Homo sapiens: one gene and its partners. The protein of the gene in region 4 interacts with the protein of the main gene of each other region in a pairwise test. Each region holds a gene or a part of one and is shown on either strand. Other genes may lie near its edges.

Region 1 (7,229 bases), on a different chromosome or scaffold from region 4:
CTCTTTCCTTGAACCCAGACTGAGGGACCCAAAGCAGAACTCCAGCTCTTCTACTCTGAAACTGGCAGCTCTGAAGGAAAGGCTCCATCCCCACCTCCTCTATCCCCCCGCAAAACCTCCCGAGCCTCTTCTCCTCTGATACTCAGACTGGAAGTCCCCAGAGCAGGATCTCTTTCCTCAGTGGCCACAGCCCAGACGCCTGAAGCTGACATTGGACCCACAGAGGGTGAATAAAAAGTCTTTGAGTGGCTGGGCGCAGTGGCTCATGCCTATAGTCCCAGCACTTTGGGAGGCTGAGGTGAGTGGATCACTTGAGGCCAGGAGTTCAAGGACAGCCTGGGCAACATGGGCAAAACCCCGTCTCTACTAAAAATACAAAAATTAGCCAGGTGTGGGGGCTGTCCCCCTGTAATCCCAGCTACTCAGGAGGCTGAGGCATGAGGATTGCTTGAACCCGGGAAGGAGAGGTTGCAGTGAGCCAAGATTGCACCACTGCACTGCAGCCTGGGCGACAGAGCAAGACCCTGTCTCAAAAACAAACAAAACAAAACAAAAAGTCTTTGAAGGCAGGCATGGTGGCTCATGCCTGTAATCTGTAATCCCGGTGCTTTCAGAGATGGGGGTGGGAGCATCACTTGAAGCCAGGAGTTCAAGACCAGCCTGAACAACACAGCAAAGACCCTCATCTTTTTTTTTTTTTTTTTTTTTGAGACTGAGTTTCACTCTTGTTGCCCAGGCTGGAGTGCAATGGCGTGACCTTGGCCCACTGCAATCTCCGCCTCCTGGGTTCAAGCAATTCTCCTGCCTCAGCCTCCCAAATAGCTGGGATTACAGGCGCACACCACCACACCCAGCTAATTTTTGTATTTTTAGTAGAGACGGGGTTTCACCATGTTAGCCAGGATGGTCTCGCGCTCCTGACCTCGTGATCCACCCACCTCAGCCTCCCAAAGTGCTGGGATTACAGGCATGAGCCACTGCGCCCAGCCTATTTTTTTTAATTAGGAAAAATGTTTTTGCCATTCTCACATTGCTATAACACCATCTCTATCTGTTTTAAGTATTTGAATACCTTCTGAGCCTGTTTCATTAAAATAAATAAATAAAAGGAAAAAAAAACAGTCTGTGAAGTTCTAGTTACCCATAATCCCCTCCTGTCTGTGAGATTATTCTTGAAACACCTGTCAGGTCTCACTTACCCACGTCTATGAAACATAATGCAGGCAAGGGAAGGCCAGAGTAAATAGAGAAATCTGAGATGCAGAGATAGTTTCTTGCCTTGTGGCCAGAAAAATGTGTGGAAGGGGATAGGAAACCATAAATTCCCAGTCGGGCTGGTTTTTAAACAATAAGCTGGGGTCAATGTGCCAGCTCAGCTGAGTCACCACAGCTTGGCAGCAGGCCCAGCCAGCGGGAGGAGAGGGAACAGCAGCTAGCAGGGAGATGCTGGGGGATAGACAGGGCTGCTGGGGACTGTTGTACAGGCTGTGCACTGCTCAAGGGTATCCAGAGCCCAGCTTTGTATCTACCAGGAAGAAGGGGCTCCCCTCCCCTCCCTTCCTCTTCCCTCCCCTCTCCTTTCCTCTCCTCTCCTTTCCTTTCCTTTTTTTTTTTTTTTTTGAGATGGAGTCTTGCTTTGTCGCCCTGGCTGGAGTGCAATGGCATGATCTCGGCTCACTGCAACCTCTGCCTCCTCGGTTCAAGCAATTCTCCTGCCTCAGCCTCCTGAGTAGCTGGAATTACAGGTGCACACCACCACGCCTGGCTAATTTTTTTGTATTTTTAGTAGAGACGGGGTTTCACCATGTTGGTCAGGCTGGTCTTGAACTCCTGACCTCGTGATCCGCCCACCTCGGCCTCCCAAAGTGTTGGGATTACAGGCGTGAGCCACCATGCCTAGCCTTTTTTTTTCCCCCCCTGGAAAAGGTGTAGCCATAGGCGCTGACTGAGGTCCTGGGAACAAGTCTCCAGAGGGCAGTGGCACTCAAACCCACGTACCTGGCTGGCCTCCCAGAATGTGAGCTGAGCCCAAGCATGCTGTGAAGCCAAGATGCAGAGGTTGATGAAGGCACAGCCCATGGAGATGTGGAAGTAGAAGGGGAAGAGTTTGCTCTGCACTAGTCCGAAGGTATGTCGGGGAAGGCTTCGGAAAAGCAGGAAGCCTGCAGGGTATGGGGACCACAGGGGTGTTAGGGCACTTCCCGGTTCCCCTCTTATTTCCATCCCCACCCCAGGTACCCATGACATCCAAGCTGAGGGTCCCTACCTGAGACGAAGGTCACCCACATTTGCATGCCCCAGGCACCTGACAAGACCAGTAGATGGACCATCTTAATCAGGCCTCCTAGGTTCCCGCCTTCCTCCATCTTGCAGTCCTGGGAAGGAGGCACCGGGTGGCTCAGAACTTTACCTTTGCCTCATGCGTGGCCTTCAGACCCTGTGAGCCCGCTCGGGGACAGGGTTACGGCCAATCCAGCAGAGATTCTGGCAAAGCATCCCGGGAATGAGAGTGAGAAAGGCCCAAAGCAGTCAAGGCCCAAAGACAACCCTCGACCCCATCTCTCCAAATGTCAGCCCTCAAGATCTCAGGCTCTCTGGACCTCAATCTCCATGCCACTTCAGAGGCCCCAAATTTCAGCCACAGCAGCTCCAGATCATAGCCCTAGGTCTTCAGAGATCACTCCACTAATTCCCAAATATCACCCCAGGGATCCAGTTCTGACAGCCAAGACCACTCCTCTCATAAAATAATACCGGATATTAGGTGAAGATCCCGAAAGCCCCGAGGAAACCCTAAATCTCATCCTGAGGACACCGATCCCACCAAAGCCCCGAGGAAACGCCAAATCTCATCCCGAGGACACCGATCCCACCGTTAGGAACCGGGACCTCAATCCGCAGCACCCGGATTCCGAGAACAGAGGCGTCGGGGCCAAATGGGCTGAATCTGGTACCTCACTCCCACGCCCCCGGGTGGACAGCGACCCTCCTCGGCCGCGTCCCCTCGTGGGTTTCCCCCAACCAATAATTCGTCCCGCCTCCCAGCTGAGCCCGAAGCCAATCGGGTCGTAGATCTGCACCTTTCTATCCCGCCCTCCTGGGTATTGACTAATCGTAGAAACCCCCCTGGGATCCCGCCCCCTCCACGGGCTTTTATCCAATTACGCCGCGGCTACTAAGCGCAGCTGAAGCGTGAAGGCGCCAATGAGGCCTTCGGCTACTCCGGCAGGGGCGGAACTAAAATGCCGGCCACACCCCTCTCTGTGACTCAGTCTCTGAGCGTTTTAATACGATGGTGTCCCCGCGGGATCAAACTTCAGCGTCACAGCTGAGGACTGGCTTCGTGGTCCCTGATGGGAGAGCATGAACAGGTGGTATGTGGTAGGTGGGGTTCTGGAGCCTGGCGGGTGTAGATTTCACAACCCAGGGGGCGGAGCCAGGATGATGACCCCGCCCCCTCCCTAAATAATTCTCCCGGGAGGGACACGGAAGCAGCAACCGGGATGGGACGGGGAGAGAGGAGGCACTACTGGGGACCTAAGCTGGTTCTCAAATGCCTCTCCTTTTCCCCTCCAAGCCTCCCAGGCTTCCTATGGTCCCTAAGTCCCGGGTTCTCAGCGTGACATTCCAGAGCAAACACAGCTCCCCATTACTCTATACCAGGCACTGGCATGGATTAATTTATCTAATCACAACATCCCAGTAAGGTGACTATTATGACATCTCGTTTTTATAGTTGGGGACACTGAGGCATGGAGAGGTTCAGTAACGCGACCAGTATTACACAGCTGGAAGGGACAGAGCTAGGATTTGAACCCAGGCCATCTAGCTGGAGAGTTTCCCTGCTTAACCGTCATACTCTGCTGTCCCTGGAAGTGAGGACCTCCCTGAGGCAGTGACTCTCGGAGGGGCAGCTTAGGACATTTCAGGCAGAAGAAAAACGTGTACATCACAGGGTGGGTGTGAAGATCCAGTGAATGCTTAGGGGATGCCCGGCACTCAATTAGGTGCTCAGAAAATAGGAGCCTAAAAAAGGATTAAGGAAGATTTTACTGAAGATATGCTGAATAGTTTTTGTTTGTCTGTTTGTGTTTGAGACGGAGTTTCGCTCTCGTTGCCCGGGCTGGAGCACAGTGGCATGATATCGGCTCACTGCAACCTCCGCCTCTGAGGTTCAAGCGACTCTCCTGCCTCACCCTTCCAAGTAGCTGAGATTACAGGCATGCGCCACCACGCCTGGCTAATTTTGTATTTTTAGTAGAGATGGGGTTTCTCCATGTTGGCCAGGCTGGTCTCGAACTCCTGACCTCAGGTGATCCACCTGCCTTGGCCTCCCAAAGTGCTAGGATTACAGGTGTTAGCCACCGTGCCCAGCCTGAGTAGTTCTGAAGAGCGTGTAGGAGTCTTCCAGGTCGACTGAATCAGGCAGAGGGCCTGGCAAGGGTGACAGAGAGAAAGGTCTAGAGGATTTGGGGGAAGAGGCTGAGTGTGACTCAGGGCAAGGTGCCTTTCACCTAGAAGTTTCTCCAGGCAGACCTGCCCCAGATATCTCCATCTGTGCCATATGTGGCTATACTGGAGGGGGAGGGGAGTTGAATGTGAGACCCAGAGCTCAGCTGTTTCCTGTTTCCAGCCTCTTCTAGCACGGGTCTGGGCCCCAATTCAGCTAACATTTATTGAACAGATATGCCCTGCCTCTCCTGCTCACACTCTATGGCTGGCATTCACCTGTGGGGCCAGGTCGAAACTCCTGGCTTGGCCGTCAATGCCTTACTGGAGCTGCTCTGCTAACCTCCTGCTGCTTCCTCTCGGACCTCGATTCAGCCATCATGAATTTACCAGCATAGAGCATGTGATTCCACACCTCCAAGCTTTTGCACATGCTGCTCCCTGCCAGGAAAGGCCTTCCTTTAAGCCAATGTCAAGGTCCCTTTTTTCTTTGGACTCTTCTGAGGCCTGATTTTTTTTCTTTGGGGCCTTCTGGGTCCTTCTCACTGCCCAGCCCAAACCTTGGGGCTGGGATAATCTTTTTTGTTGTTGTTTTTTATTTTTGGAGACTGAGTCTCACTCTGTTGCTGAGGCTGGAGTGCAGTGGTGCAATCTCGGCTCACTGCCACCTCCGCCTCCCGGGTTCAAGTGATTCTCCTGCCTCAGCCTCCCGAGTAGCTGGGATTACAGGCGCCCACCACCATGCCCAGCTAGTTTTTGTATTTTTAGTAGAGACGGGGTTTCACCATATTGGCCACGCTGGTCTCGAACTCCTGACCTCAAGTGATCCTCCCGCCTTGGCCTCCCAAAGTGCTAGGATTACAGGCGTGAGCCACCATTGCTGGCCGCGTCTGGCCTTGGGATCATCTTTTATCCAGCTTTGGCTCCTACCATAACTGAGAAGCCTTGAGTTTAGGGCTGAGGCCTCTCTGGCATGTCAGGGAGGGTCTGGGGGCACTGGGGACATGGGGACTTATCTCAAAGCAGCCCCTGCTTCCCTACTCACAGCGACCCTCTTTTGGCCGGCCTACCCCGGGACCCTGACTACTCTGTGTCCTGCCTCTACTCACCTCCCTCACCCTCCAGCATGTGTTTGCCTGCTAACATGAAGTGTGACAAGTACTGGGGTTAGTTAGGGGGCTCCCATAGGGCTGGGGACACTGGGAGGGGCTGGGAATGTGAGGAGTGCCCTGCACTGTCCCTCAAGGAAGCCCTCACCCCTAGGCTCTTCCTCGGACAAGGCTCTGGAGCGTACAGCTCACTGGTCCAGGACTCCAGAGCCAGAGACCTTGGGATGCCCTGCTTCTGGGGACACAGTGAGGACTGCAGACTGCAGGCCAGGGTGGGGCTCAGGGCCTTCGCCACATGAGGCTGCCCCCTCCCCCAGTCCAGACCTGCAGAAGCAGTGCTGTAATGACCAGGACATTTTGAAGAGGCATCACAACGTAGCTAAGGTCACCCCCACCCGGGAAACCCCTTCAATGCAGAAAACCACTGCAATCTACTGCTGTGGGGCTTAGGGAAGGGGCTGTAAGGCAGAGAGACTCCCATGAATGCACCCACTGTGTTTCTTCAGCACCTAGAACAGCACCTGGCACTCAGCAGGCCCTGGCTAAGCAAGTCTTAAATGAATGGATGAAGGAATGAATGGAAGGAAAGAGTGTGGTTGTGTGTCTTCCATGGGGATTTGGCTGTGATCGTCTCTCAGCCACATAAGTGCACTTCTGAGCATATGTAGCCCAAGGGGGAGGTGCATGAATATGCCTGGAGTGCAGCTTTGCCTGCACTTACGGTTTGGGACACCTAGAACTGAGGAGATCCAACTCTTGTCCAGCCCTCAAAACTGGGTTGAGGTGAGCAAGGAGGCAGCTCAGGGACAAATTTCTACTCCCATCTCATCTCTCTTCCTTAGAAGCCCTTGGAGACCAGCTCTTCCAAAGTCAAAGGTGAGAAATCTCCTTTCCAACAAAACTGTGTGGGGAAGACCTGCTGGTTTCTACCTCTACCCTCTGCCCCAGCATCAGCTGTCCCCCTGCCATGGTCACCCATTCACTCCTGCCCAAGGCTGAGTGGGCCCCTGTTCTATATCTTATCCCCTGTCCCTACTGCTACTCTGAGCCTTTGCTGACCTCTGCCCTGCCCTTGCCCCAGACCCCACCCCTTACAGCCCTGGCTCACCCTCTTCTCTGCCCACAGCCAAGACCATTGTGATGATTCCCGACTCCCAGAAGCTCCTGCGATGTGAACTTGAGTCACTCAAGAGCCAGTTACAGGCCCAGACCAAGGTGAACCACCTTGGCCCTGCCCCCAGCAACCTCTGTTTCTCCTTGCCCTCCCCTCCTTCCTCCCACCCCAAGGCTGACCTCTTTCCCCCAGGCTTTCGAGTTCCTGAACCACTCAGTGACCATGTTGGAGAAGGAGAGCTGCTTGCAGCAAATCAAGATTCAGCAGCTTGAAGGTGAGGACTGACCAGAGATCAAGGTCAGGCTAGGCCAGGCGTGGTGGCTCACGCCTGTAATCCCAGCATTTGGGGAGGCCAAAGAGGTTGGATCACTTGAGGTCAGGAGTTTGAGACCAGCCTGGACAACATGGTGAAACCCCATATCTACTTAAAAAAAAAAAAAAAAAAAGCCAGGTGCTGTCACTCATGGCTGTAATCCCAGCACTTTGGGAGGCTGAGGCAGGTGGATCACCTGAGGTCAGGAGTTCGAGACCAGCCTGGCCAATATGGTGAAACCCCA
Region 2 (7,800 bases), on a different chromosome or scaffold from region 4:
CACACAACTCACTGAGCTACTTGCAATCTGGCTCCCCACCTGCACCAAAATGTCTTCAATCATCTTCTAAGTTGTAAAATAAGGCAACCATCCAATCTTAATTTTTCTCAAGGTGATTAGTAAATTTGACAATAATGAACCAAGACCACTTACTAGTCCTGTCCTGTGACCTTGGGCAAATTAGGTAACCTCTCTGTGATGCAGTTTTATCAGCAGCAAAAATTAAAACAGTAGGTCTTCCAATGAGTCCAAGAGACAATGCATATAAAGCGCTTAGTTAGCACAGGACCTGGCATGTAATAGCTACAAGAAACTAACAATTATTGGGCACTTTCTGTGCCAAGAACTGTGTTCAAAGCATGCTACCTGCTCTCTACATTTTCACTTTAATCCTTACCACACCTTCGTGAGGTAGGTATTATTTTATCACCATTTTATAGATAAAATAACTGAGGTTTAGAAAGATTAAGCAACTTGCCCAAAGTCTAATGCTTAATGTTAAGTTAATGCTTAACAAATGCTAAGTGGGGAAGCCCATGCACTCATCCATTATATTACACTATAATTATAAATAAAACCCATAATAAGTATTAGAGTACAAGGAGAATAATTCCTACAGTTTACCTAAGCTCTATGAAAAGGTATTCCACGAGTTGTCTTTATCTTCTTATTTCCTGTTTATATTCTAGCAACTGCAATCTGCATTCTATTGTCATCACTGCACTGAACTTACTCTTACTAAAATCACTAAGGAGGCTGGGTGTGGTGGCTTACGCTGGTAATCCCAGCACTTTGGGAGGCTGAGGTGGGCGGATCACAAGGTCAGGAGTTCCAGACCAGTCTGGCCAATATGGTGAAACATCTCCACCAAAAAAATACAAAAAAATTAGCCGGGTGTGGTGGCGTATGCCTGTAATTCCACCTACTGGGGAGGCTGAGGCAGGAGAATTGCTTGAACCCGGGAGGCTGAGGTTGCAGCGAGCAGAGATCACGACACTGCATTCCAGCCTGGGCGACAGAGTGAGACTCCGTCTCAAAAAAAAAAAAAAAAAAAAAAAAAAATCGCTATGGATCTCCAGCTGCCAAATCCAATAAACCTTTTTTTTTTTTTTTGGAGTTTATTTGACTAATCTGGAAGATTTGATACTTCTCTTCTTGAAATACCGCCTTTCCTTGGTTCTTGGAACTTAAATGCATTCACTCTGACAAGTATTGTGCATTCATTGTGCTAGCTGGTGCCCTTACCCCTGAGTTCATAAAACATAAAATTTAGTGAGGAATAACAACTAGTGTCCAAACCATCAAAAATTATGTGATAAGAACAATAAAGGGGGGAATACACAGTGCTATGAACTTCTAGAGAAAGGTGCTATCTAAACTGAGACCTAGAACAGGAGAAGGAGGTGACAAATTAAAAAATAGAGTGAGGGAGAGAGGGTCAAGGGAGGGGTTTTGCATAGAGAGAACAGCAACTCCAAAGACTCAACCAGGAGATTAGAAAAAATATGAGAATTGAAGCTGGAAAGTTTCCCAATAATGCCTTCCTTACTCCCTTCTAACGATTCCAGATTGTCTTGGGTGATCTTAACTATTTTCTGTTTTAAAAATATGCTGACATCCATCATCTCTATCTCTAGCCCTCTCCCCTAAACTCCAGGATCTAATTATCCAAGTTTACTGGTCATATCCAGTCAGAGAGTTCAGAGGCACATGAACTCACTCAACAGGTCCAAAGGTTCAGTATGTGCTCCTCACAACCCCCGCCCAAATACTAGGCCTCCTTTAATGCCTAATTCTCAGACATAACGTTTTAAGTCTCTCCCATTCTGCTGCCTTAAGTCTTCAAACTCTTACCCAATTTAGAAACACTTGGTTTAGTTAACATTCAGGAATTTACTTTTCACAAAGGAGCGAGGGAATGGATATACTGTTGCTAACCGAACAAGGAATTAAAGAGGAGAGGGGAAACAAGGTCTTGGAAAATTGAATTTCCTTTTCCTTTACTCATTCTTGGGCAACCTAAATGACTGGAAGCCTGTTCTGGAACAGGTTGACTAGATAAATTTAGTTATTTGTGGATTCTCAGAAACCTTGAAGTTTAGCTGTCAGCCAGTCTCTGTCCTTTGGCACTTTAACACGGATTTCACCAGCTCCTTCATTTTCTGGACTTGCCCTGCCTCCAAGCTTGCCCTTCCTAAACCTTATTTCTAAGATGCAATGCCACGATCTATATAAATTTAAACATCAGAGATAACCTCCTTAAAACACTCAAAGTTCAAGGGAGTGCTTGCCCTAAGCATAAAGATCAAGCCCCGCTGTGATTGATGCACACGAGGCCCTTCCAGACTTCTTCACTCTTCATTTCTTACATTCTCGCCATCCTACACTTCACATTTTTGCAGTATCTGATCACTCATGGTTGCTACTGCTTCATTCCTCTCTGCCCACGGAAATATCGTTCCCTTACAGGTGATGTCCTCCCATTCAACTCCTAGTCATCCTTCAGTAACCTCCTCTCGGACGCCCTTCCCAACCCCACTACTCCCAAAGCACACTACATCTTACCTCCTTCTAGTGGTTCCTGCTTTTGTATAACTTTCGCCAGCCTATCACCCTGTGCTGCAACTATCTTCTACGTCCTGTCTCCCGAAGACAACACATTTTAAAGGGCAAGAAACATGCCCTAGCCTAGTTCCATCACTTAAGAATTTCACTCCGTTTTCATCCTTTCTAGCACGTACCTTAGCCTAGGCCCACCTTCACTCCAGTCTCCTTCCGCCCCGTCTCGGGTACCACTGCCAGCGTCCCGCCCAGCGCGTGCATCCGCACCCAGAACCCGCTCCCCTCGATCTCACGGAGCACCGGGTGGGAGCCCGCCTGCTCCCCCTTCCTCGCTCATGAGCCACTCCTCCAACCCCCTCACCTGAACGGCCGCGAGATGACTGCCGGCCACCGACACCGAGGACTCGCCAGGTGTTCCAACCTCGGAACCTGCCTCGCCTGGCTTGGGGGTGGAGCCGGGTGGGCCAGGCGGCCCGTCCTGTCGTTATTGGCCTGCGAGAGCTCCCGCCCCGCCTTCTCGGCGCGGTGATTGGTCTGTGCAGTTGCCGACATCGTGTGACTCGCGCGAACGAGCTCCTGGCGGTCCCAGCCATTGGCTCCGCGGATGGAGTGAGGATAGTGAGACCTGCAGAGCCAGCCAATGGTCGGCACCGCGGAGCGCCCGGAGGCGGGGAAGCGTGAGAGCGCGCCACGGCGTGAGGGGGCGGGCACAGACGGATGGCCGCCTCGCCCTGCAGCGCGGAGTCGCCTTGGCAACTGCGGTCCCGGCAGATTCCCAGTGAGAGCCTGCGCTGTGCGGGGGAGAGTGTCGCGCCGGCCGCCGTCCCAGGACTTTTATTTCAAATGTGACCTGTGTAGCAACCGCAGTTCCCAAACCCGGGAAGAAGAGAGTATAGATGAGTCTTAAAATCTATGTTGACTGTTTTGTGTTTCCAGACACCCTTGCCTTCCTTTTTCTGGTCTACCATTTAGATTTAGATCTTTCGTCTCCCTTGTTTCCCCAGCCTACGTATCCTTTAATAAATTCCTGCATTTTGAAAACGGAGAATTTCAAATGCGATTATCGTCATTTTGCAGATGAGAAATAAAGGCTGGGAAAGATTTAAAAAGATTGAACATCAAGGGAGAGTTCGGCTCCCAGGACCTTGACCTCGCTACATGGGCAGAGAACGCCCAGGTGTTGTTGCAATTGTTGTGCTGGACGATGAGTGCCCGGGGGCGGGGGCGGGGGCGGGGGCTTGACGCAGGTCTTTGCAGCTCTAAAGCTCAGTTTACACCATCTCTCAACATTAAAATATTGTGTACTGGGGTTTAATAATAAAACTGTACAGATGTGATAATATACTAAAACTTTCACTTAACGGAAGAGGTGCCTTTAAAGAAAAAACCGCACAGGGGCATCATTTGGGCTAGTGAAGGCCCTTTTTCCTCCTTCTTTATTAAGGTATAATTGACAAAAATTGTGTTTACGGCGTACACATGTTTTGATTATGTGTATATTGTGTCAAATATATACAGCTTCTGAAAACAGAATACTATTGTTTCATTCCTCCATGCTTTTGCTCAAACTGGCCCTTCTGCCTGGAATAATCAGCCATCTCCATGCCGCCCCATCAATTCAGGTACTATCTCCTTGAGGAAGTTCCCTCTTGAAAAGTGTCTTTTTTAGATTCAGTGTGACCTGTACTTATTCGTCTATCCCTCATGTTTGGCACACACATTCTTTGTAAAGTATCATGACAGCGGTCACGTCAAATGAAAAGAAATGGGATCTGTCCCTTGGTTGTCAGAGTCAGCCCTGTCTTTAGGATGCCTTTACAGTGGTGTCTGAAACCATGCCTATATACTTTATGAAGTTAATCTGGGAAAAAGGGGTGGGGGGAACGAAATTAAACCAAGCTTGCAGCACACTGAGGATTAATAATTAGGTCAGCTTGCTGTCTGACCCCTTCCTCATAATTGTTTGCCTATTGCTTCAGAATCATGTAGACTCTGTTACAAGGTTATAGTTTCCCCTAACTGCTCTATAGACAACAACTTGAACATTATGAAACGTTAAGTTTGTGCTTTGAGATAACCTTTCAGGTCCTTCGTACTGATGAAACTACTGACTCAGCTGGTCTGACAAGGAGCTGACTCACCAAAGAATGCAGTTCCCACATCCTGATGGTTTCATTCCTCCTTACCCCAGCCAATCGAGGACCCTAATTTTCCAGCCCATTGCCCTCCAGGATCCCCTTAAAAGCCCCAGCACAGAACTCCTCAGAGAGATGAATTTGAGGGTTTCCTCCCATCTCCTCTCGGCACCCTGCCATCACTAAACTCTTTCTCTTCTGCAAACCCTGCTGTCTCAGTGTATACTGTGCAGTGGGCATATGAATCTGTTGGTCCTGTAGTGGATGCTGTGGCACACCACCCAGATCCCCCTCTTCAAGACCTAAGCAGGCATTCCTCCAGCTGCTGAGTACTGCCAAAGAGAAGCACCTCTCCCCACGGGTATACCCCCTTTCTAGGCAACAGCTAGTCAAGTAACTGGTTGAAACGGGTATAAAATCCCCTAAACCAATGTAGGGCTACTTTGCTTGGCCATCCCAGCTCCAGAGCTCCCCATCCTATTGGTTGTGTGATGACTGCACTGCCACCCAACTTTTCTCTCTGCCCAAACCTGCCATCCTCTATCAGGTGAGCATCAATAGCACACACTATCGGGCCACACTTACTAGGCTTGGCATTTTATTAGCAGTGGATAAGTTACTTCTCTGTCTTATCTGGTACTTCTGTGAAATAATAATACCTACACCTCGAAGAGTTATTTATGATGATTACATGAGATAACGTATGTAAAGCCCTTTGCACAGTCTCTGGCATACAAGATATGATCAGTAAATGTCAGCAATTATTTCTGATTTGGAATTCTACCACAGTATTACATTTTCTAAATCAGAGCAGGTGTAGGTGTATGGAGGGGTCAGATTATTTTAAACCTTAAAGGCTTAGAGCTGGAAAAAAATGCTGATGCAGCAGCTCAACTCACTTATTTCCCTACAATGAAGATTAACAGGGGGCTCAGGGAACAATAGCTGTAATTTATTGAGGGCCCGCTGGATTTCAAGCATATTAACATGCATCATTTCTTTCAAACGCAACAACCTTGTGACACAGACACTCCTATTGCCATTTTAAAAACAAAATAAGGATTAGAGGTTAAGTAATGTGTTGAAAGTCACAGCTAGCAATTGATAGAGGGAGCTGCAAACCCAGAACCCTTTTGTTTCTATGCCCATGGGCTTTCCAATATACCACATGGCTTTTTTCCTTAAAGCCAGGATTAGAACCCCAGAATCTTGACTCAAAATATAGTTCCATTCTCCAGCGTAGCCTCCTCTCCAAAATGAGACACTGGCAGCCATGGAAGTCAGTAGGAGGCAGTGTGCTTAAGACAAAACTAAACCAAGATGGTGTCAGCACACTGCTATGTAATTTCATGTGACCCTTTTACACCTCATAAAGTTAAGTCTCATAACGCAACAGCAGTTAGGATTACAAATACCTGGGTTCTTATGCTGTAAGGAACGATAAAGAGATAATAAATACCAGGAATCATACACCAGACTCCATAAGAAACAGGGAAAGAACTGATAGTCTTCTGACAGTAAATACACCTTCCGCCTTAACCACAGTCATCACTGCTTTCAGCCAAGGAGGCATAGATCCCAACAAAGCAGGCAGACGAGTTGCTTCACAACGCAGGTATGTGGATCCAGCCTTGAACTCTGCTCAAACGTGGGGCTGCTTCCTTGGCAGGATTTCTAAGACACCTCTCTGCCTTCTTATTTTTCATACAACAATGGAACAGGCTGAGAACACTTCCATATGCCTTTAAAAAAATTTCAAACTGGAAAGACAAAGGTTGGCATGGGGGAAGGAGGTATGTCTAAAGTCTCTGAAATCATAGCTATGAATCCAGCTACTGACAAACCTTGGCAATTATAGTATAGCTATTAAAGCTTCAAAGATTAAGAAAGTAAAGATAGAGGTATTTGACATGCTATGTAGTTAAGTCTTTGTTACTTTAATAGGCTGAGATTATATTTTAAGAAAAGCTTTAAGATTTTTCAGATAAATCTTTAATTGATAGATTCATATAGAACATTAGTGTTTGGAAGTGATCAGGACAGACAGAGACCTCATACATTTTTCTTGGTGCCTCTGTCAGAAACAGCTGACTACTCCAAGTTCATTAGACCTTCAATATGTTTGTTGACAATGATGTGCTGTAAGGCAGAAATTCATGTTTTCATCAACTGAGCATAGGCTTTTTCTGATTAAATTCATTTATAATGGAAAGTTCAACTAAGTATTAAATGTGGTTCCATGTTTAAATTTGAATCGAAATGTTATCATAGCAATCTTTCCTCTTGATTATCAACTGGTCTAGCAACAGCTCATGCCAACTTTTTTAATTCCTGAGGAATGGTCACAATATCCCATCACCTCCTCCTTCCCCCTCTTCCCTTCCTCTGCTGTGTCCAGCACCTCAGCTGCCTACCTGACTCCACTATTCCTATTTCCTCAATTCCTTTTATTTGGTATCAAAACCACAGTTTATTTCTCAGTTACTTTGGAGTAGGTATTTTTTTTCTTTGACTTTCCTTTTGGTCTAATACTACTTGTTTTATCCTTATCTCATGCCCTACCCATATCAGGGACACAAAAATATAAAAGGTTTAAATTTTACCAATCCTTGACAGACCTCTCCTTGATAGTTGAAGTTACTTTTCCTTGGAAACAGAACCATTTTTATTGACTTCGGTTATTCATTTAATAGTTTTGTCTTGTAGGTGAGGTCACTTTGGCAATAAATTAAAAATGCAGATTTGTGAAGTGACAAAATGCAAACTATAAAAGAGCAAAAAAACTAACAGGAAACTTTAACACAAAACTAAATAGATAAAAATCAAGAACACTGTGAAACAAATAATATACAAACTTTTATTCAAAGTTAATTCAAGAAAGACATGTTTTGGTCATTTTTAAAGTGAGATTAATTGAAGATCTCAGAAAAACTGTATCTGATCAACACACATGGCTACTCACAGAAAGTTCTCTCTTCTGTTAATAGCAGCTAAATTTATACACACAGAAAAAATTCCGAAGACCATGCAAATTCAATTGAATTCCATACATTCATTATATTCATCAAAAACCTGCAGTAATGTTCATGCCAAAGTGTTAATT
Region 3 (7,337 bases), on a different chromosome or scaffold from region 4:
TTTGTGCTCTCAGCCTTTTGCTATATTGTCTCTCAATGAGGTTGAAAAGCAAGTTTGACCACACCTGACATCTTTTGAAACATTTCTATGTCCCCAGACCCTCTCCTGAGTACAAAATACATTAACAAGAAGAGAGAGCAAACAATTAACTTCAATTTTGCCACTGACTAAAGCCTGAGATGTTTCAAATTGGAAGGAGAAAAAAAAAAAAAAAAAACTTTGGGAAAGTTCCAAACAAGGAATGTTTTCTTTTTAATGAGTGTCAGCACTGCAGTATGACAAAAGAAGTAGAGATTACGAGAAGGAAAAAACTTCCTCCAATCTTTCAGGCATATAGGTTTGCAAGGAGCAAAGTAACACAGAAACTGGCACTTCATTTATATATCATGTCATATAGCTGTCCCTTAACTGGCATTACATAGGAACCAAGAGTCATTGAGAAACTAAGCTATGACTTCCAGAAGGAAAAAAAAAAATCTCGAATGAGTCACATTGACACCACTTGGTAATTTTCTATTACAAGAAATGCAGGCAGACTGTAGTTAATTTGTAGCAGCTGCTGAATGCCCGTTAGGGTACCAACCACCCCAAAGGAAGGAACCACCTAGGCTGCTGGCTTTTGCCTGAAACAGGGGTTCGACCTTTTCATGCCTGTCTACACTTAGAATGAAGCTGTGGTACAACCGCTCCCATTGCTTGCTCATTTATTTATAAAATAAAATATCACTTACTTATTTTTAAAGGGTGGAATAAAAAAATAAAAAAATTAATTTTTGCTTTAAAAAAATAAAAAAAAATGAAGGGTGGAAATAAGGCAACTAAATCGTAGAACGCAAGTTCCAGTTAATGAACAGATCAACTCTAGAAATAACTCAGAAGGTAACAGCAAGATCTATGATTCTAAAGGATAAAATCCTTAAAGGCATTTGCAAATGCATTTGAAAGATAGTACAATTTTCCTGTTGCCTAATTACAGCGTTTCTCCTCAGAGGCAGGTAGGCAGGTAGGTACTGTAAGAGCGAGTGACAGAAACTCAGGAATTTTATTTTACATAGCGATAATCTACTTGCTGCTAACTGCTAAATTTTTTGTTCAGGAAGATGGTAAGCTTACAGTAGCATTAATAAATTGAGCTGCAAAAACCGTAGCAGTATATTCTTCGAAACAAATATTGCTTTAAAATGCTAGATGGTTCATGGTCAATTGTGGTCGGTAATGGTGTTCTAAATATAGATTCAGAAGATTTAAGTATAAACATAGGGCACAATATGTTTAAATACAGATAGATGTGCAGTAGGCACTGAATTGCTTTTGACAGATTGATTTGACATCCACCTCATTCCAGACTGCTCCAGGGGCTTTTTAGCATTTCTCTGAATAGTGGGTAAAGCCCTTCTTTCCTGTATGTTCCTTCTCGGTGCTAATCTCCAGGCGAGGAGGATCTCTTCCAGGATTGTGTCTTTTCAGAACTCTAAGCCAACAGGAAGAAATCTAAATAAAGCGGAAGGCTGCCCTTCTCCAGTTTTGTTCCTTAATCTAAGGAGGCCCCTGTAGCGCAGTTTCTATAGTTGGCGACAGTCTCCCTGCAGATTTATATATAGTAACATTGGTTAAAAAAAATCACTTGACAAAGTTTTCTATTTCCGTAACATTGTGTCAGGAGGGAAGCTTAACGGAAAGTCTTCCCAGGGATGAAAGTATTTGTTTCTATTTTATATGTTAGTTTTAACTCCTTAAATTCATCTCCTATGAGAATAAACATTCTTGATCTGACTCAATGTGCTCTCTGAATTCACTGAAATAAAATATAGCCTGTAACTCTGACCAATAACCTGGGGTGCCTCCCAGAACTGCTGGCTCCAGGTGATCTACAGATTTCCCAAGAGAAGCGCTGCAGCTCCTACCCACCAGCAATCTAAAATCTGCAGCAATTCCGCAGGACCACACCTAGGCCCAACAGCACATACCTGCAGAGCCGGAAGCGCCTTCCCCTCCAGGGCATCTCCTGTCCCCAGGGAAGGAATTAAAGTTCTAACCCCTGCCTCTCCTTCTACCCATCCTAGTATCTGCTTTTCCTTTACCTCGTCTTCCACACTTACTTGCCCCCGACGCTATTATGTAGCTTGTAAACTCGTGACTCTCAAGGAAAGTATCAGCAGAAGCCACAACTTCGGGGAATGACTCACTAAGGAGTCTCCAGCGCCTTCCACCGCCCTGCAACTGCCCCACTACTGTAGCCCTACGGCTCCGTGCTGCCACCCCACATAAAGAAGGGGCATTTTCTGAAATCCAAGGAAGAACCTGAAGAGTCCCCCACCCGCCTAGAGGCGTCTCTTGCTCTAAGTCAGCGGTAGGAAATGACCACCTTCCCAGTACAAATGGACAAACGATTCTAAGAGGCAGGAGGAAAACAAACACAATTCCTTCAGAGGCTCTCCCGACCGTCCCTAGCAACACATCCCCACCGCAGCGGGTGCATTGCTCACAGGCCACTTCTGAAACCAGTGTTACTGATCAGGCCTGCACAACCACTCCCCCGGCAGTGTCCGGCTCGCCATCCTCTGCGCCGGAACAGCAGAGGGCAAGGTCGGGTGGTCTCCGGAAGGCAGAAAGGTGCCCCCAGACTGCAGAGCCCGGGGACAGCAGGAGAGGAAAGGAAGGAATGGAGGAAGGGTTGACCTTGAGAATTTTCCTGAGTTACACATAAATAGGTCGGGCCTCGCTTAGACGCTCCCAACCCACTCCACCAGGGAAAAGATGCAAGGCAAGGGGAGAGCAGAGAGGGTGGAAATTCAGATCGCTAATTTACTGATAAGGGTGGGGGGAGGTTAGAGACAGCGGGTCTCTATTCAGCTCGCATAGGCTGAAATATGGGAGTGCCCTGCGCAAAGGCTGAAGTGCCCCCGGCGGCCCGGTGCTCGTGGCTGCCCGCAGGTGCTAGCACTCACCTGGATCACCTTCGAACAGCTGGAGCAGAACAAAACTGCGCAGCGCGGTGTGGGTGCGGCGCCCTCGCCTGGGGCGGGGCTAGATGAGGCCAGAAGCAGGCCCCGCCCCAGCCGACCAGCGCGCGGCCACGCCCCCAAGGCGGGGCTCCTGGCGCTGGCGCGCGCTGTCTAAGTTGCCAACTCAGGGCCACTGGTTGGGAGGTGGAGGCCTAATTTTCTTCCTGCTCATGGTCGTCCAGCGATTTACTCCTCTCATTCTCAAAAACATATATCTACTCCCCCAGGTGCCTTCGTGGCCATCTTCCTAAACTGTCCCAGCCAGGTCATACCTCCCGGATTGGGTTTGCAGAACAGTGGGACGTGAATAATTTGTCCCCAGCAGAGCCACCGTAGCGGTTTTAGGCGCTCTGCTGTAAGGGCGAAGCACGGGCATGCAAGGCGCGTGCGCGAAAGTAGCCGCGCCTCAATCGATGTGTCCCTGAGGCGCGTAGCTGGGGCGTGGGCGGCGCTTGGTGTCCCAGGTTGCTACACTCCCGAAGTGAATGGATTTATCGCTGTTAGGGCCTTTTTGTTTAGGGCCTAACAAATATTGTTAGTTTTGCCGAGAGCTGGCGCCGAGCCCTGCCCTCGTGGTGGGCCGTACCCACGCCCCCTGAGCGCGGAGTCGCGTGGCTCCGGAGTTTTGTTTTTTTGAAAGGAGTCTCCCAATTGTCCGTGGAGTTTTTTTTGCGGCACATGGAGTCTCTGCCTTCGCGACCCAGACCTTTGATGTGAACACCTGCTCCCGTTACGCTCGGGTCCAGCGTCCGGGGCGGGGCTCGAGGCCGGGTGGAGGAGGGGTGGGGGCGGGGGTCTTGGTCTTGGGTGAGACCTGCAGATACGGTCGGGCTGAAGGAGTAGAACTGGCTTCTAAATGCCGGAAAATCCGAAGGAACTGACTGCAGAAGGCACGTTTCCAATTTTCGCGTGTTTTAAGTGCACCCTCCCGCCACCTCTCCTCTGGACATCCCTCATCCTTTTGAAGATTGCCACACCTGGGCCCCTCCTAGAGTCTCCTCTTTGGAGGATTCCTCACCTCCGAGAGAATGCTTAGGAACCCACCTGAATGATTCCAAGTTAAGGTGTGGAAAGGCAGAAATCTAGATTTTTGAAGGCTCTAGGTTATGTGTGTGTTTCTTTTTATTGGGTTGTCATATTTGCACATCTAGAGGTACTTTGAGAGCTCATTAAATCTTTACTGTTGCTGTTTCAGCAATTTCCAACCATTCTCATACTTTCTGTCATGTTGGGTTTCTGTCATGTTGGATGTAGAGAGGGCTTTGTTTTGCTTGAACATTGAAAGGAAGTAAGTTAGGGAGACAGTTTTGCATTATTGAGGCAAGTTTCTCCACTTGCTGGCTGTTCTACGTAAGAAGTCATTCCAAGGTGGTGGAAGGGATGATTCAAAAATCAGGAGCGGGGATGCACCTTGCACCCTCATTTTACACCGGAGACTGCAGTCTCAAAAAAAATTTGGCCTCTTCTTTGCCAGTTATCTCTGACCACAGACAAGTACTTAACCACTGAGGACCTTCTTTTAAAAATCTTATTACAAAAGCAGTATTCCTTTATATTAGAATTTTCGGAGATACAGAAAAGCCCACAAAAAAATTACATACACACACAATAGAATCATACTGTATATTCTGTTTTGTGGTCTGCTCTGTTCACTTCATAAAATGTAAACCCTTTTTTTGCTTTTCATTTCTTTTTCTTTTCTTTTGATACATAAACCAGAGTGTCACTTTATTGATTTGCAACTGGGAACCTAAGTATGTTGTGGACTAGAAAACTCCTGTCATGCACTCAGTGTATTTTTTTCATGTAGGACGCTTTTCATTTCTTGAACGGTTCATGCTGCAACATTATTTGGCAATCAGTGCATGTCTTTTCATAGCATGGATGTACCAATCCTCTTGCTGGAGTTAGCTTGCTTTCACTTCTTTCCTATTGCAGTGTACAATCTTGTAGATAAATCTGTGTACGTGCTTATGATTTCTTTTTTTCACTGAATTCCTTTGCAGAGGAATTTCTAGGTTTTGATCTCTGTCAATAAGATGCACTCCAGGAAGAGAGTTACAGTCCTCTCCCACACTGGATATTGGATATCATTTTCTTCCATCTCTCTAAAGGGGAATAAGACCTTTCTCACAAAGTTATTGTGAAGTTCAAGTGAAGTGAGGACAAAGTGCTACACAAAAGTCCTGCCCTTTTGTCTCAGGATAATATATTTTGCAAGTCCTATTGAGGTGGGAAGTTAAAGAAAAAATTAAAAAGAGAAGTAAGTTTTCCTGTATTAGGCTGACTTGTTCCAGAGGCAGCAATGGGCACAGCCCAGACCCAGGGAAAGTCTTGATAATACTATCTAAGGAGCCAGGACACAAAGGAATGTGCTCTGGAGACTCTCCCAGCACTCCCTCCACATAGGGAGAAGAAAAACAAATTTTCCTTTGTTTTATGGTATGAGTTTATGAAAATTCCTGTTCTCTGTAACTGGTGACTTCAGGTATTCTGTTTTATCTAAGCAGTAGAGTGAAGGTCATAAACTGTCTGAGCAGGCCACCTGGACGCTATAGTGAAGGTCATGGAATAAGCCGTGCTAGGCACTAGGCAAACCTAGATAATGGACATCTGGGTTGCATAGCAATGGTCATGTGTAATCCTGAGTTATGAACCTGTTACAGTTTAATTAACTGTCTTTGTCCTGCCTCTGTATCCCTGCTTTCATGCCACTGTAAGCCGGCTTCAGGCTGGTCCACACCCCTTTTTGAGGTGTGTATAAAAGTCAAGTGCTGTCTTTGTTCTGGGCCCGGTCTTTGGATGTTAAGTCTGCTGGGTCTGAGTGCACTCAATAAAGATATCCTTATGTATATACCCCAAGGCCTCTCTCTGGTCCTCCTGATTCCACAACACTATTACAACAATATAAATTATGGATATGTAACACTTGCTCAGAAGTTAGTCTGTACTTAACTTCAGTCACCATTAATTCCTTCTCCATTTACAATCTGGCTTCTGCTTCCAAACGTCATCTCACACTGCTCTCTCAAAGGTCACCATTTGCCTTGTAAACGCTCTCTATCCTTGGATTCTCAGACATTGCTATGTCATGATTGTTTTCTTTGTTGCCTCCTTTCCTGGTCCCTTTTTGTCTCCCTACCTCTTAAAATGTGTTCAAGGCTCTCCAGAGTGCTAGCCTCTATTTTTCCCCCTCATTCTTCTATGAGTCGTTTCTTTGACTCTCCCTTAACAATTTCCCCCGTTTCTGTGAATATTTTGGTTGTCTAGAGTCAAAATGCCCTTCTTTTTTTAAGGAAAATCCCTTATTTTAAAATATGTTGTTTGAAAGTAGGTACCTACTGTAAAAAAGTTAAAAGGCCAATTCTCCCTCTCCCTCACTTCAGAGGAACTAAGGGGGTGGGCATGTGCCTTCAGCTTTGCCAATCAGATGCTTGCTCCCAGGCCTCCGATTCTTGAGGAAATTAACAACAACATGGGGACATTTGGAGATCTCCATTCATTATGGTGGCAGCAGTGGGAAGACCAGATCTCTCTCAGTCTTTTCTGATTACTCCGTTAAAAATTACAGCCTCCCTCTTCTCAAGGAACTCCTTATTCCCCTTCCTTGTTTTATTTACTACCATTTTTGGTAATAAGTAAAATTTACTACCCTTTTGTATTTTTGATTTAATTAACATTTGTTTTATTATCTGGCTTTCCTACTCAGTAGTAAGTTACATGAAAATGGAGATATAGTCTGTTTATTGCTGTATCCCTATTGCTCTTAAATGCCTGGCATACAGTAGACACTGTATTAGTCAGGGTTCTCTTAGAGGGACAGAACTAGGGGAGTTTATTAAGTATTAACTTACACGATCACAAGGTCCAACAATAGGCTGGCTGCAAGCTGAGGAGCAAGGAGAGGAGACCCAGTCTGAGTCCCAAAACTGAAGAACTTGGAGTCCGATGTTCAAGGGCAGGAAACATCCAGCAGGGGAGAAAGATGTAGACTGGGCGGCTAGGCCTGTCTCGTCTCTTCACATTTTTCTGCCTGCTTCATATTCACTGGCAGCTGGTTAGATGGTGCCCACCCAATTAAGGGTGGGTCTGCGTTCCCCAGCCCACTGACTCAAATGTTAATCTCCTTTGGCAACACCCTCACAGGCACACCCAGGATCAATATTGCATCCTTCAATCCAGTCAAGTTGACACTCAGTATTAACCATCACAGACACTCGGTAGCTATTTGTGAAATGAATACATATGTGACTTCTTTCCGTTGCCTAGCCATCTGGAACTCTCTGACTTCTTGGCCTTTTTATGAAGCCTGTACCTCCAGCCTAACTGTGA
Region 4 (7,417 bases):
AGTCAGAAGCATGAGTCCAGGCACCCAGATGACAAGCCATTGAGATAGCTGTTTAAATGGTTCCATTAATATTAACTTGCTATTTGTGCAATTGTTTTGTTGACTATTAGCTCTCACTAGCAGATAATCCAAGTGGGAACAAAGATTACAAAAAGTTTAGAGGGAGAAGAAAATCCTTAAAAATGAGAAAATGTCTACAAATGAGCCATCTTAATTTGTTTGTTTGTTTGAGACAGTCTTGCTCTGTCACCCAGGGTGGAATGCAGTGGCACCATCTTGGCTCACTGCAATCTCTGCCTCCCGGGTTCAAGAAATTCACCTGCCTCAGCCTCCTGCCACCACGTCCAGCTAATCTCATTTGGTTTCTGTTGGCAGGACTCCACGGTCCAGTTTGTGGGCGGCCAAGATTCACAAGATTCAGAGTTTGAGAATCAGTAGTACCAGAAACTGGTGACTGCCTTTGGCTGTCAATGGTTAGTTTTCCCGCACCAGCCCTCTCTTCCGCAATTACAAAGGCAATTTGCCACCCACTTCGACTCGTGGGGTCAGCATTTCATCTTGTAACTCTGTTAGTGACACATTTTGGATGACTCCCTGAATCAGAGGCCCTGGGGAATCAGTGCCACACAGGACAAACCAGGTGCCTGCTCTCATTGAGCTTGTACTCTAGTTGGGAAGGCAAACACCAAATGTATTTTTTAAAAGGTAATTATAATTTTTGAAAAGGTTTGGGAAAGAAATAAACAGGGTGAGTGAGAGAGAGAAACTGGCAGGAGGAAGTGATGACTAGATTATAGGGTCAGGGAAAGCCTCTCTTCAGAAGAGATATTTGTTTTGAGTCCTGAAAGGGTTCTTCATTAACTAATACTGAAGCAATTGATCAGCTAACTAGAAAAGAGAAACAAAACTATTTTAGGTCCTCATCTCACTCCACATACCCAAATAAATTTCACATGGATCCAAGAGTGAAAGGTAAAACCAGATAAAAAAATCAATGATCTGGAAAAAAGGATATATTTGATTTATGAGTGAAAAATAAAATTTGGAACTTAAGAGCAAATGGAAACTACAAATAAAGAATTGCACAGGTTTAACTATTCTAAAATAAAGATTTCTATTCACCAAAAACAACATAAATATAATTAAAAGTCAATGAGCATGGAAAATATCTACCACAACTATGAAATGATTAATGTACTTAATGTTTAAAATGTTTACGCAAACTGTCAAAAAACATTACACCTCATTAAAAATGGACAAATATGAAGAGATAATTCACAAAGAATGCAAAGTAGTTAACTAACATGAAAAAAAATTCTGTAACTTTTCTAATGTAATTAAAGATACGCCAAGTAAAAAACCAGAGTTTCCCTATCAACACTGTAGGTAAAAACACTTGATGATACCAAAAATATGGTTAAACTGGCATTCTCACACAATGATGGTGGATGTGAACATTTGTACAAACTTTCAGGGAGGCAGATTGGCAATAAACATTAAAAACCCTAAAAATAGTCATATCTCTTTGGCCCACTTTTATAAATCTATCCTAAGACAGCAATCAGAAATCCAGTCAATAATTTATACATAGGAATGTTCAGCACAGCATTACTTTTGGCACAAAATGGGAAGCAGCTTGAAAGTCCAATATCAGAAGTAAACTATGATGTATCAAGGATAAAATACTATGCATCTTTTAGAAAAAGCAGGTATAAAATCACTCTACATAGTGTGACTACATCCATATAAAGAGGCATAGGAGAAAGAGACTAAAGAAGTATTTGAAAATGTTAATGTTAGCTGTGGTAGCTCTGGGTGGTGACATTACAGGCAATTGTTCTCTATTTGCAGTAAAATATTTTTAGAATTATGTGCTACATTTATGAAAAAAAAAGAAATTTATAAAACAGGCATTCAAAACAGCCTTAGTAATTAGATAAAGCAGGGACTAAGCTGGAAAGAAAGTTGAGAAAGGGGAATATGTGCAAGATTGAAAAAATATCTCATGGACTGAGTCTCAGACCTGAGATTTTGGGGAATGGGGTATGGTAAGTGGATACTGAAAAATGCTCTTCAGTTATCATGAGGGAAGAAGGAAATATGTGTCTTTTCCCTCTTTCAAAGGAGCCTTTGATTTTATAGGCGAAGAAGCATAGTGGAAGTTATTAGTGAAACTAAGCCCACATTAAAAAAAATCTCTTAAAATATGCATCAAGAGAACTAAAATACCACCATGGATTTCCACTGGGGCATGAGGAGCAATCTGGTCTAATGACTAACATAAGATCTAAACATCTCTTAGGTCCCATTCTTTGAGGCAAGAACACAAGTTTTTCTGTTGATATTAATCTTCAGTGTGTATTTTAAAGTTTTATGATGTGTTCGTAACTACCATTGAATAGTGGTTTAGTTAGTGTTGGTCGGTGACCTGCTTTTGTTTACCTATTTCTGATGAACAGTGTATTGCACAAGCCACAGCCATGTCCTTGTACACACTGCGTGCAAGACTCTGCTGTGTGCAGTCAGCCCTGCATCGTTTCTAACCAGTTATACTGGCCTTACTTTCATCATCTTTGAGGCCAGAGCTACACATGTTGATGCCGAAGAGTGGAAGGAAGGAGAGCAGAGAGTAAAGGGGGTAGATTATGTAGATTATACAGACATGAGCGAGGGAGGGTCACAGATACTGAACAACCAGTGAGTTCCCCTATGTGGATTGCCAGAACATGAAATATCTGAGAAGAAAACAAAATTGTCTTACAAGGTAGTAGACGTCTGGGTAAGCTGTGATGCTTGCAGGATCGGTACTTACAGAAAGGAGGTGCAGAGACCACAGGAACACTCATGAAAAGGAGAAGCAGGAAATCAGGGTTGGTTGTTTGAATCTTCCTTCTCGCTGGCTTTCTAATGTCAGACTCCAGAAAGGAGGAGTGGAAGGGAAATGGCAGGCAGATGCAGTCCTGAGCTGGTGCCCCCTTGCCTTCGCAGTCGTGCCTAGTAAACAGCTCTCTGAACTTTGGTACATTTGTTCTGACTGATGTCACTATCAGCTGATTTCACTTTCGTTTCCTAACTTGCCAGTGGCCCATGACTTTTCAGAAATGAGGTATGTAAACAACTTTTTATTGTCCATTATGACATACTCTTTACCTACACTGTAGCCGGCAAACCAACTGATTTAAAGAGCCAGGTAAATGTCTTGATTATATCACACAATAATTCCAGAAAGGGAAGGAGCCAAAGAACTCTCGAAGCTCCCAGTGATTTAAACTGCAAGATAAACACAACCCGGAATTTTATTCAGAAGAAACCCATCAGGATCATCTGGTCCAAGCTCCCAGCCAGTGTGGCAGTCAGGACCCAGGTCACCTCCTACTCATTTCCTTGGGAAGCAGCTATGCCGTCTGTCCCCCAACCCCTTTTAGAGATCAATTTTGTAATGATGACTGGGCTTCTCTGGACACAAAACTTTGTGTCCTGAGCATTCTCACTGCAGTGTTTAGGCCCATGTTGGAGCAGCTGGAACATCTATTTTATTTCAAAATAAGAGCCGAACAAAGCTTTTATTTTTGTAAGCATTGGGGCTCCTGGCCAGAGTTTAAAAATTGCTTCCGTTGCTCACATGACCAACTGGAAATTTCAACTGTGGGTTAAACTTGGTTACATGAGACTGCTACCTAGTGCTATTGCTGAATCCTTCAGCGGTTCTCTTCTGCTTCCTTGCCCTTCCTCCAAAGGAGGAGTTATTTGAACTGCTACATTGCCCTCCCCCTGCCCCTAGTTCTTTTAAACGCAAACTCTAGAAAGAGGTGATGGGATCCAGGAGGAAGGAAGAACAGAGGCTTTGAGATCAGAGAGTTCTGCTACATACTAGCAAATTATTTAATCTCTTTGAGCATCAATTTCTTATCTGTAAAATGGAAACAGTACCTACTTTGCATGGTTGCTCTGGGGACTGGAGATAATATAAGTGCTTAGTACAATACTGGGACCATAGTAATGGTAGCTATTATTATGAAAAGTGGAATTTCTGTATATTTAGTCTAGCATCCATATTAATGCCTTTAAGACAGAAAATTAACTTTTAGATACTAATATACAGTAGTTACTCTGAAAACTCAATACTGGTGAGTGAAGTGATATAGAAGAGATAGAAACATATTTATATTTATGAAATTTATTCAAGGTTATCATGTACCTAGTTTTCAAAGAGTCAGTTTTTCAAAACTTACGAAAATCGGCAGTCCCACACTCTCCCTTTCTTCCTCTTCAGAGGCAAGCACTTTCACCTGTGCTCATTCTTTAGGCATTTACCTCAGTTCTCTAAATAACATGCTTGGATTGGTACTTCTTGATTTTTCAGTTTCAGGCATAATCTACTGACTCCCAACCATAAAAGGTGAAGATTTAGCTTTCTTCTTCCCCACTGCATGTTCCAGAAGTATGCTTCCTCTCTTCCTCCTCTATCCAAATTGGTTATAGTTTTGTTTAAATCAATATTCAGTGTTTACAATATTGGAATATGCACAGGTATACTTTATTTTATTGTGCATCTCTCTTTGTGGATCCTGCATCTTTTACAAATTGAGGATTTGTGGCATTTTTGCATCGAGCAAGTCTATTGGCACCATTTTTTCAATAGCCTTTGCTCACTTCATGTCTCTGTGTCACATTTTGGTAACTTTTGCAACATTTCAAGCTTTTTCATTATTATTATGTTGGTTATGGTGATCTTTGATGTTACTATTGTGATTGTTTTGGGGTGCCATGAACCGCACCCATATGACGGTGAACTTAATTGATAATTCAGTTCTGACCGCTCCACCAACTCTGTGTTGGTGTTCTGACCGTGTGTTCTGACCACTCCACCAACTGGACGTTCCTCCATTTCTCTCTCACGTTAGGTCTCCCTATTCCTGAGACACAATAATACTGAAATTAGGCCAATTAATGTCCCTACAATGGCCTGTAAGTGTTTAAGTGAAAGGAAGTGTCACATGTCTTTCATTTAAAATTGGAAACTAGAAATGATTAAGCTTAGTGAGGAAGGCATTGTGAAAGCAAAGATAAGCCAAATGTTAGGCCTTATGTTGTGAAGGCAAAGGTTCAGATGATTGTTAGCATTATTTAGCAACAAAGTATTTCTAAATTAAGGTATGTCCGTTAGGTTTTTTTAGACATAACAGTATCACACACTAAATAGGCTACCTTATAGTATAAACATGACTTTTATATGCACTGGGAAACCAGAAATTCGTGTGATTTGCTTTACTGTAATACTTGCTTTATTGCAGTGGTCAGGAACAGAACCTGCAACATATCTCCGAGGTGTGCCTGTAAATACCATTTACAGCAGCTGAGCCATGTAGAAAATTAAGATTACTTTTCCTATCCTGCATAACTTTTGATCTTCTCTGAAGATAATTGCTTTTTTTAAAAAGTTTGTTTGCTTGCTTGGTTTTCTATTGCTTAACACTAATCCAACCCTCAAATCTTTATCAAATCTTCTATGAATAAATTTCTATGCATCAAGTATTCTATATCTTCCTGAGAAAGGCTTTTCAGACCCTTCCAACCTGCCCCAGTCTGGGGCTTGACACCACACACAGCTGTTGTCCTGGCTTCTCACATCACCACCATGCTGGGGATTCCCTTTACTTCTGTCCTAGGTTGGATCTCCTGCTTCCTGCATCAAAGGCATTTCTCTTTCTCCATTTATTCAGTTCTGGGAGAGTAAATCTCCAGTAACTTCCTGAGAAATGGGTACACTGAAGAGAATTTTTTGAGAACTTACAAAACTGAAAATATCTTCATTCTAACTTGATCTATTCAAATGTGATCAAATTTAGACTGAATATAAAATTTTAGGTTAAAAATAATTTTCATTTATAATTTTGAAGGCTTTGTCCCATTATGTCTGGCTTTCTTGTTTTGTTGAGAAGTTTAAATTTGTTCTGCTTCCTGGCTTCCAAAATGGTCTCCTCTTGTCATCCTTTCAGCTTTATGCCTTAAAAAATAAATTATTTTGGTGGTTTTGAGAGGGAGCAAAATTGAATGTGTATCCAGTTTGCCATTTTTAACTGGAGGTCTAAAATATTTCTTTGTTCCTCTTCTTTTTTTTTTTTTTTTTTTTTTTTTTTTTTTACTCTTTTGAGACAGGGTCTCTCTGTCACCTAGGCTGGAGTGCAGTGGCACGATCACAGCTTATTGCAGCCTTGACCTCTTGTGCTCAGGTGATCCTCCCACCTCAGCCTCCTAAGTAGCTAGGACTACAGGTGCGTGCCACTATGCCTGGCTAATTTTTATATTATTATTATTATTAATTTTTTGGTACAGATAGGGTTTTGCCATGTTGCCCAGGCTGGTCTAACACTCCTGGGCTCAAGGGATTCACCTGCCTTGGCCTCCCAGAATGCTGGGATTACAGGCATGAGCCACTGTGCCTGGCCTCTTTCTTATTCTTTATCTTCCCTTTTTCTTTTTTTTGTTTTTACTCCAAGAGGGTTATTTCTTACTGTCTCTTTCACTGGTTCTCTGGCAACCTAGCTGGCCTATGGTTGAGCTTGTTGCTTTTATCAAGCTACTCATTTCCTCTTAATTGCTTACTGTCAAAATCTCCATTGTTTTTGGCAGTACTCTTAACCTTGAACTTCCCCACACTCTGTTCCAAACAAGTCAGTTTACTTGAGGACAGCTTCAGAGCTCTCTGTTCTTAAGGCATGCCTCTCCTCTGGGCAACATATCTGAGCCACTGCTCTGGACCTGGGGTTGGTGACAGTGGCTTGCATCTTCTAGAGTGACCCATCTACTTTTTGAGCATGGTCCTGAGTGGCGTAGTAGCCTCTGGTCTTTTCAACTTCAGCTTGACTCTCCTGGCATGGAAACTCCACACTATGAAGTAGCTGGAGAAAAGGTGACCAGGAATCCAGTATTCCCAGCCCACTGAACCTTTGCCTTATGGTTGAGTGGAGGAAGGGAGTCCCTGACCTCTTGGCCTCATTAGCCTCAAATGTTGTTTCTGCTTCACAGCGGTAGGGAGATGAGAAACGCTGGCAGCCTTCTCCTCCTAGGGGAGATACCATAGCCCTTGACTGGGAGCTGGAGTGACTGTGATCCCAGTGTTCTTGGCCATATCCTCCCACAGTGGAGTTTCCCTTCTGCTGAACATGGGGGAAGGGAAGGAGTGGGCCATGGCTAAGTACCAGAGACCCTCACTTTTCTTACAGGAATTTAGTAAATTTTCTGAATAAATATGTCTTTATTTGATGTATGTCCTTAGGACAATTTTCCTAATGGTTTTTAAAACTTTAAATGGGTTTTTCTAAAAAATATTTCTACCAGGTTCCCCTCCCTGCCCACCACTGGGGAGTGGGTGAGAAGCTTCTCAGGGTGCTGTTTTAGAGCTGGATCTCTGCCC

What was found.
Region 1: the proteins of TMEM140 (region 4) and TMEM205 interact in binary tests that used the Homo sapiens proteins (3 or more experiments, as listed by UniProt).
Region 2: the proteins of TMEM140 (region 4) and MSMO1 interact in binary tests that used the Homo sapiens proteins (3 or more experiments, as listed by UniProt).
Region 3: the proteins of TMEM140 (region 4) and MGST3 interact in binary tests that used the Homo sapiens proteins (3 or more experiments, as listed by UniProt).

What each region holds. Positions count from the first base shown.
Region 1 is NC_000019.10:11,343,254-11,350,482, forward strand, and holds the start of TMEM205 (transmembrane protein 205), read right to left. Parts: upstream 3,016-7,229; 5' UTR 2,367-3,015; coding exon 2,267-2,366; intron 2,163-2,266; coding exon 1,999-2,162; intron 1-1,998. Other genes in the region: CCDC159 (coiled-coil domain-containing protein 159), read left to right, coding at 3,364-3,374, 5,713-5,830, 6,401-6,434, 6,685-6,773, 6,865-6,946. UniProt on the Homo sapiens protein: In cancer cells, plays a role in resistance to the chemotherapeutic agent cisplatin.
Region 2 is NC_000004.12:165,322,888-165,330,687, reverse strand, and holds the start of MSMO1 (methylsterol monooxygenase 1), read right to left. Parts: upstream 3,020-7,800; 5' UTR 2,924-3,019; exon of another isoform or gene 2,742-2,923; intron 1-2,741. UniProt on the Homo sapiens protein: Catalyzes the three-step monooxygenation required for the demethylation of 4,4-dimethyl and 4alpha-methylsterols, which can be subsequently metabolized to cholesterol.
Region 3 is NC_000001.11:165,626,905-165,634,241, reverse strand, and holds the start of MGST3 (glutathione S-transferase 3, mitochondrial), read right to left. Parts: upstream 3,009-7,337; 5' UTR 2,949-3,008; intron 2,012-2,948; exon of another isoform or gene 2,003-2,011; coding exon of another isoform or gene 1,968-2,002; intron 1-1,967. UniProt on the Homo sapiens protein: Displays both glutathione S-transferase and glutathione peroxidase activities toward oxyeicosanoids, as part of cellular detoxification as well as synthesis of bioactive metabolites.
Region 4 is NC_000007.14:135,143,666-135,151,082, reverse strand, and holds the start of TMEM140 (transmembrane protein 140), read right to left. Parts: upstream 3,012-7,417; 5' UTR 2,813-3,011; intron 1-2,812.